Homo sapiens: one gene and its partner. The protein of the gene in region 1 interacts with the protein of each later gene in a biochemical or structural test. Each region holds a gene or a part of one and is shown on either strand. Other genes may lie near its edges. The genes, in order: PAX3 and HDAC10.

Region 1 (3,806 bases):
ATGAGAGAGGATTTCTACCAACTAAAGATATTCTAATTCCTACATCAAAAGTTCATTGAAACTTTTTTTTTTTTTTTTGAGACAGTCTTGCTCTGTCGCCCAGTCTGGAGTGCAATGGCGGGATCTCAGTTCAACCCAACCTCCGCCTCCCAGGTTCAAGGGATTCTCTTGCCTCAGCCTCCCCAGTAGCTATGATTACAGGCACCCGCCACCATGCCCAGCTAATTTTTGTATTCTTAGTAGAGACGGGGTTTCACCATGTGGGTCTTGAACTCCTAAGCTCAGGTGATCCACCCGCCTCGACCTCCCAAAGTGCTGGGATTACAGGCGTGAGCCACCCATTGAAACTTAATATGGAGGAAAGCACTGTGTTTGGGGTTGGAAGGATATAAAGGGAATCAAGTAGGATCTCTGCACTCTGGTAGTTTGATGCCTTGTCCTCATGGGATTCACAGAGCAGTCAAGGAGACCAAAATAATTGCTCGCTAGAGGTAGAAACTTCACATTTGGAAGCACAGAGAATCAGGAAAACTCTAAAGTGGAAGCAAAAAGTTTCAGCTCATTTTAAAATTTGATTCTAATTTCGACGAGCGATCGCTTGAGATGGAAGTGACATCCATCCTGTCCTACAGGGCAGGCAGATGCAGCTTGTTACAGGAGGCCAGCTTAAGAGAAGATGAGAATTGATTTCCTTACAGAGCAATGTTAACAATTTTGCAACTTAATTGTAATTCTTAAAGTCAGATCATTTAAGAGCGGAGGAAAAGATTTTTCTGGAGAAGAAGCTCAATTTAATAAATCCTTTGCCGAGGGATTTGCTCAAACTTTTGGTACTCACCCAAGCATTTGTCTGAAAAGAGTTTTGTCTTCTCTCGCCATTGTTGCAAGATACTGGTAAGGAAAGCTGTTTGAACTTCCTCAAAACATCAACATTTAATACTCCTTAAGTTTCCAACAGGAAAACGAGGTAAGTTAATATTTTCCCATGTTGATACATAATTGAATTAGAGTTTTACTTAACTTAATAAATTGCCACCTGGGGTAATAGAACCATGAACAGCACTTAATTTCAGGTCTGCATTAACTGTGCTTTCTCACTGCCCCGGTCTGAGTGCCTGTTACCACGGCTCCCAAAGGCATCAGGGTAAGAAAATCATTTTCAAGAAAGTTCTGGGAACAAACTGTGTTAGCTTGGGGAGGCTGAAGGTGGGAAATTAGGGTCATGTTCATGCCTGAGTGCACTGTACCATAACACACACTGTGGTTGTAGTTTATATTATAATACGTCAAGACTAAGGAGGTACTCCCGGCTCAGATCAGGTAGTCCTCTGCAACTATCTAGACCAGCGATGTACAGTGCATCTCCAGCTTTATATTGCTGGGAGGAGAACTGGACTTCCAAAAGTTTTGATGTAACTTCACTCATGAAGATTTACTATGCTCAGTTCCACTGGTGAAACCCTTTATGAAGAACTCAGAAAGGTACGCTTCGGTTTTTGTCAGATTTGTTGGCAATCTCTCTGTGCCACCTGCCTTCTGTAACCTTTAGATAAGTAAACCCAGGAGTGGTGAAGCCTGATCTCTCCATCAATCTCAAGTTACTATTGACTCAAGGTTCATTCTAACTCCACCATAACCCAATTTTTAAAAACAAAAATGTCTTTGCTGAGATAATAAAGAAGAAACATCATGAGTTTCTACAAATACCTTCAAAAGACAGAATCCAAACAGAGTAAGAGTATAAGGGTTTGGGGGTTTGTTTTCATATTTTCTAAAATGATATAAATAGGTAACAAAGACATTGAGTAAACTCACCAGGAGTTGGATTAAAAAGTCCTTATATTTATTATACAGTATCTATTATATCCACAATAAAAAATGAAGAGAAATTGTTGTGAAGCAAATCTTTACTGAAAAACAAACCTTCAGCAAGAGGTTCAAGAGATTCCCAAAGGAAGGAATTTAAATGTTGTTTAAATTTAGGCTAAATAAATCCAGAGGGCTATTCCTAAGAGAACCAGGGCTTAGTGAGGACTGGCCTGCCTGTCTCTGGTCATTTAACCTGATTTTTTATCATCTTACCATTGCCAGCCTTCTGCATTTCCTAGAACCAGCTGAATTTGCCAAAAGAAGTATTAAAGGAAAAACACACTAACTTTGCAAATTAAGAACTGGTCTTTGCCTTCTTTATGTTTTGAAACTCAAAACAGACAAATTTTCTATTTTTAGTAGACTAAAAAGAGTACCCTAGAAATGACCTTTACTTTCAATACCTGAACGAACCAAGCGTAGTGATCCTAGGAGGCTGTTATCAGCCCACATTTAACTGAAATTTTCTTGATACTCCTAAGTCTTAGATAACTCTTTCAATATTGTATCACTAATTCCTAACATACAATCAATGAATAATCTGCAGAATGGCATGTGTGAGTGTATAACACTGAATAAATTCATCTAAAATATACATATTTATAACTTAGTAGTTACACTTTCTAGAAATTTCCCCTTGTTTTGAAAAGAATAGCAGTAGCAACAGAGGCAAACTGGCCTATGACTGATGTTCTAGGAGAGAACAGAAATTTACCACCCAATGTCTTTGCCAGTAGGGTGGAAAGAACAAGATTTACAAAGTTGGCTATACACCTTTAAATGAAATTATATGATCTACAATTCAATGTAATTTTACTATCCCCACACAAGATTACCTGGCCTTCCGCATCACACTTGGCATGTTAAGGAAGTGGGGGCAGGAGGCACAAATTTGTCAGTAACCTACTATACTATTAGACACAGTTAATTGTCTATCATTGCATGTATAATATTACATCAAAAGTCTCCCTCAAAGCAAGTTGTTATTTCATTTGATAAACTGCAGCCCGGTTCATTTTTATCTGCCGCCTGTACTTCCCAACTTGTATGTCTCTCTACTGAGTCCTTCCATAAAGCCATATTTCATGTCTTTGAAAAATGATCTTTACATGCATTTCTCTAGTAGTATAATGTCCAATGATTTTTTGAAACAAAATTTAAATTGGTTGAAAGAGCCCCATAACATCATGATAACTAGGAAAAAAAGATAATAATTAGAAAAGAAATTTTCATACTTTTTATGAGTAAGCAAACCAGTTTGTTCAGACTCTCAACATTACAAGTTGGCGGGTGGCGGGGAAACTAGTACTTTCTACAGTAAAGATACAACAATACATCTTATTCACATGTGTGCAATACAGACCAGGCAAAAGTTGAATCTCAGCTCCTCATTTATATTAATACTTCTGTGACCATGAACAATTTGCTTAATATCTGGGGGTCTCTGTTTTCCCATGTGCTAAACGGGGAATATAAAAACTACTTCACAAGATTGTTGTGACTATTAAAAATGCAATGCAATCTAAGCTTCTAAAAGAATACCAAGGAGATATTAAATGTTCAGTAAATGCTAGCTATTAAATAGAAAGTCTCACACTGACACTTCTATCTGAGAAAACCAAGAATTGAAGCTCTGTTTTGCTTCCTTCACTCTGTGGTGTCCAGCCAAAGCCTTTTGTGTCTGTGAGTAAACAGGAAAGTGCCCAGAAAACACCTCAAATAATTGAAAGCCGGTTTGACTTGAATGGAGGCTTAGGTCAAATTTGCTTCCAAGTTTCATGGATTAGTGCTAATTGTCCCTTGGTGTCAGCCTAATTTTGCCCATCAATAAATTACTGGTTCACATTTTTGGTGGTGTTCTCAAAGGCAATTCAGCCTACATTATTCAAGACGGATTACTTCAAATGCAATTTGAAAAATGGGGAGAGAACATAATA
Region 2 (4,603 bases), on another chromosome or scaffold:
CTGGGCCATGCAGAGGAAGGACAGAGGGTGGGCGCAGGGCACCAACTCAGGGACATCCCCTCTCCTGGGCGACGTCAGTGGACCTTCCTGCACCCCCAGCCTGGAATGTAAATCAGCTGTGTGGTGCCCGCGTGGCTGGAAGGAAATAGACCCTTTTGTAGCTCCCTGTTCTGGCTGTGCGTCCTCATGCCGGGTCCCACCTTAAGACCTCCGGGCCCTTGGCCTGCATGTAGAGGAGGCTGGCCTGATAGCTCAGACCCTTAGAGCCAGGAGGGGGGCCTGAGCATCCCATCTCTCCCAGGCCACAAAGCTGGTGCCCACTTCCCCCAGGCCTGTGCCAGTGATCTTCGAACCCCCACGTTAGGGCTTGGCCCCTCCCCTTTTACGGGGTGACCTGCTAATGGCTTAGACTCTAAGCCACTGTGTGTGGATCCTGAAGCCAGACCCAGGGGCAGGGCCTGATGGGGAGGAGTGTTAGGATCTACCCTAGCTCTCTGCATCCTCCAATGCCAGCAGGTCCCTGGGGGGAGGGGGCACGCTGGGCACGTTGAGACCCCTGTGGTGAAGTGGTGAGCGCCAGCCAGTCCCTGGGGGGACGGGGCACATTGGACATGTTGAGACCCCTCTGGCCCCTGTGGTGGATTGGTGAGCGCAGAGGGCTGGGTTTTATTCTTGATCAAACCTCTAGCCCCTACTACCCTGCTCCAGTGGTATCTTCGTGCCCAGGCCGCCCTCTGCAGGCCACTCGGTGTTTCCAAGGGTGGCGGCTGGAACACAGGCCATGGGCACCTCCAAACCTGTCCCAGGGCAGGGGTTACAGCAGAGAGACCAGTGAGGGGCAGGGCAGGGCAGGCCAGGTGTCCTCGGTGGACATGCCCACAGCTGGCCCAGCCAAAGTGGACCTGATGAGCTGCCACGACAGATGGGCCTTCTCTGCCCAGCGACCCTCATGCCTCTCCAGGGCATCCGGGCCTGGGGGACGTGATCGCCATCAGTTCCGGAGCCACGCTGACTTGTGGCATGGCTGCTGTCCACACTGGGCCCAAAGTGTGGGCCCATAGGTGGCCTGAGGACTGGGGGCCCCAAAATTCTGTGACCCAGCTGGATGTGAACTCCCGCGGGGGCAGGGTGTCCCCTGGGCTCCAGGGGGCCTCAGGTTTCCTCTCGGGCATCTTCCTCCGTGGCTGTGCCCGTGCCTCCTATCTTCCTCAGTCCCCCACCATGCTACCGCAACCCCGGTCCAGTGTCCCCACCTCCACCGACCTTGACTCTGCTCTTGGGCCAGGGGTCTTCTTGGAGCTAGAACCGGACTCACTCCCTCCTTAAACCTCGGGGGCGGTGCTGCGCCTCCATGCAGCCACGACCACCGCCCTGAGCCGGCCGCAGCGCCACCTGCCTCCCCGCGGGCTCCTCCCGCCTCGTGGCCTTTGCCCTGCAGACCCCTCGCCCCCCTCGCCTTTCACCCCAGGTCTTCCTGCGCCCGGGCCGGGTGGGCCTTGGGGCTGCGCTGGACCCTGACCCAGCTGGTGCAGAACGGGGCTCTCATGGGCAGGCTCGGCCACGGGCGTTCGGGTGGGGCTGCGGCGACCACTCGCCTAAGGCCGGGGGACCCCGCCCCTCTTGGAGGGGATCGGGGCGGGGCCAATGGGGAGGCGGAGCCGCAGCGCAGCTCCGAGGGCTGGCGGCTCGGGGCGCCGAGGCTTCCGCGCCCGCTGGTTCCTCGCTCCGGGGCGGAGCTCGCGATAGCGACCGGGAGCAGGGCGCGGGGCGGGACCCAGGTCCGAGGCGAGGAAGCCGGAAGCCAGGCGCGGGGAGCCTCCCCCTTCGACTGCAGCCTCGCTCCGTGCCTTCTGCGCGCCTGGGATCCCGGAGCCTGCCTAGGTTCTGTGCGCTCCCGCCCAGGCCGGTGCCCGCCGCCCGCCTGCGCCCCAGGCAGGTCCCAGGCCTCCGGCTGCTCCCGGCCGAAGGTGGGGACAGGCAGTGGCAGGCACCACTAGCGAGGGCGTTTGGGAACCCAGGGTGACCACGGCGCAGCCATGGGGACCGCGCTTGTGTACCATGAGGACATGACGGCCACCCGGCTGCTCTGGGACGAGTAAGTGGGACCTGGCCGAGGTGGGGTGCGGGGAGGGACCTCTGAACTGAGCTCCTCATCTGCCCCAGCCCCGAGTGCGAGATCGAGCGTCCTGAGCGCCTGACCGCAGCCCTGGATCGCCTGCGGCAGCGCGGCCTGGAACAGAGGTGTCTGCGGTTGTCAGCCCGCGAGGCCTCGGAAGAGGAGCTGGGCCTGGTGCACAGGTCAGGACGGGGGCAGGCCCCACGATGGGGGGCGGGGCGGGCAGCCCAGCTAGAAACCTAAGAACCTGGGCCTACCCCGAGCCTGCCAGCCTCGAATACAGAGCCTCTCCCTATGCACCTCGGGTGGGCTCACAGGCTTGAGGAAGTGACAGGGTGGCCACTCCCACCATGAATCCCAGGTCCCCGCCTCCCGCCCCCCTGCTCCTGCTGGTGACCCTGCCTCTCCTGCCTGCCCATCTGCATGCAGCCCAGAGTATGTATCCCTGGTCAGGGAGACCCAGGTCCTAGGCAAGGAGGAGCTGCAGGCGCTGTCCGGACAGTTCGACGCCATCTACTTCCACCCGGTGCGTGTCCCCGGACACACTCACCTGTGCAGACACACATGCACGTGCCTTTGAGCGTTCACAGCCACGGCCGCCAACCCCAGCCAGTGTCCCCTGGTCCATACACATGACATTGCCCTGCACACCTGCCTGCTGGCACTGCCAGAGCCTGGGGCTGGCCTGTTCTGCTCAGCAGCTGGTGTCTTGCAGCCTGGCACAAGTGTGGGTATGGCCTGCAAAGGGCAGCAGGGAAGGCAGGGGGCTCATCTGCGCCCCTGCGCCCACAGAGTACCTTTCACTGCGCGCGGCTGGCCGCAGGGGCTGGACTGCAGCTGGTGGACGCTGTGCTCACTGGAGCTGTGCAAAATGGGCTTGCCCTGGTGAGGTGAGAGCTGCCCCTTCCCCTGGCTGCTCCTCCGTGGGTGGCCCTGTGAGGGGCCAGGGCGACCCTGACGTGACCCAAATCCTACTCTCACGCCGTAGGCCTCCCGGGCACCATGGCCAGAGGGCGGCTGCCAACGGGTTCTGTGTGTTCAACAACGTGGCCATAGCAGCTGCACATGCCAAGCAGAAACACGGGCTACACAGGTGTGTGCCAGGCTGGCTGCAGGGGGGTGGGCCCAGGCCACACAGCAAGGGGCAGCGCAGGAGGCGAGAGAACCCAGCCAGCACCTTCCCATCCCTGGCCGGGCTCCTGGAGGTGGGAGGCCCTGCCCCTTTGCCACCAGCGCTGTCTGTACCCAGGATCCTCGTCGTGGACTGGGATGTGCACCATGGCCAGGGGATCCAGTATCTCTTTGAGGATGACCCCAGGTGAGCAGGGGTGCGGAAACCACCCTTCCCTGCAGCCCCAGTTTTTGGGTGCACAGCCTGGCCTGGGAAAATCCAGGGGTGAGATACAGACATGTGCTCAGGGGTCAGCGTTCTACAGGGAGCTGTAGAGCTGTTGAGGGTCCTGACCTTTGACCTCTGGCCCTGGCTGGCTGTTGGCAGCGTCCTTTACTTCTCCTGGCACCGCTATGAGCATGGGCGCTTCTGGCCTTTCCTGCGAGAGTCAGATGCAGACGCAGTGGGGCGGGGACAGGGCCTCGGCTTCACTGTCAACCTGCCCTGGAACCAGGTGCCCACCCTCAAGCCCCAGGTCCCCACCCAGCCCCCTCCCCCTGGGCCCCTCCCCTCCCCCACAGTTCACCCTCAAGCCCCAGGTCCCCACCCACCCCCTCCCCCGGGCCCCTCCCCTGCCCCACAGTTCAGGATGTAGCCTGGGATGTCCTGCCAGGTTGGGATGGGAAACGCTGACTACGTGGCTGCCTTCCTGCACCTGCTGCTCCCACTGGCCTTTGAGGTGACTGCACGGAGGGCTCCCCCAGGGCAGCCGGGTGGGAGGGGGACCTTGTGCCTGGAGTGCGCCAGTGAAGGCAGGAGGAGGGTTATGAGCTGTCCCACTCCTGTGTGGCTGGGGAAGGTGCTCAGGAGGGGATGGGATGGGCCTGGCTCGCCCTCACCTGGGCTCCAGCCCCTCTCTGTCGACCCTCCCCACTCCGGCCTGGCCTGTAGTTTGACCCTGAGCTGGTGCTGGTCTCGGCAGGATTTGACTCAGCCATCGGGGACCCTGAGGTGAGGGCCTTGCCTTGCCAGGGAGGGCTTCTGGGGTCCTGGGGCCCAGGTCCCCCATCACACATGGCTCTGGTTCCAGGGGCAAATGCAGGCCACGCCAGAGTGCTTCGCCCACCTCACACAGCTGCTGCAGGTGCTGGCCGGCGGCCGGGTCTGTGCCGTGCTGGAGGTGACTGGGGAGGGCACACAGGGAGGGTCTCTGGGCCAGAGGCCTGGGGGTCAGGAGCATGGGAGCCAGGTGCCCACGGGGTATTTGGGAGGGGCGTCCTGCCCGGGATAGAGCCAGGCAGGGGCTCTCCCGGTGACATCCCATCCCAGTGATATCTCTGCCCCAATCATGTCTCCACCCTCCTCCCAGGGCGGCT

What was found.
Region 2: the proteins of PAX3 (region 1) and HDAC10 form a complex in vitro, tested with the Homo sapiens proteins (one study listed by BioGRID).

Annotation. Positions count from the first base shown.
Region 1 is NC_000002.12:222,222,346-222,226,151, forward strand, and holds part of PAX3 (paired box protein Pax-3), read right to left. Parts: intron 3,076-3,806; exon of another isoform or gene 1-3,075. UniProt on the Homo sapiens protein: Transcription factor that may regulate cell proliferation, migration and apoptosis. Involved in neural development and myogenesis. Transcriptional activator of MITF, acting synergistically with SOX10.
Region 2 is NC_000022.11:50,248,466-50,253,068, reverse strand, and holds the start of HDAC10 (polyamine deacetylase HDAC10), read left to right. Parts: upstream 1-1,803; 5' UTR 1,804-2,036; coding exon 2,037-2,095; intron 2,096-2,163; coding exon 2,164-2,298; intron 2,299-2,545; coding exon 2,546-2,642; intron 2,643-2,908; coding exon 2,909-3,006; intron 3,007-3,104; coding exon 3,105-3,209; intron 3,210-3,365; coding exon 3,366-3,434; intron 3,435-3,614; coding exon 3,615-3,741; intron 3,742-3,900; coding exon 3,901-3,966; intron 3,967-4,178; coding exon 4,179-4,238; intron 4,239-4,317; coding exon 4,318-4,407; intron 4,408-4,596; coding exon 4,597-4,603. UniProt on the Homo sapiens protein: Polyamine deacetylase (PDAC), which acts preferentially on N(8)-acetylspermidine, and also on acetylcadaverine and acetylputrescine.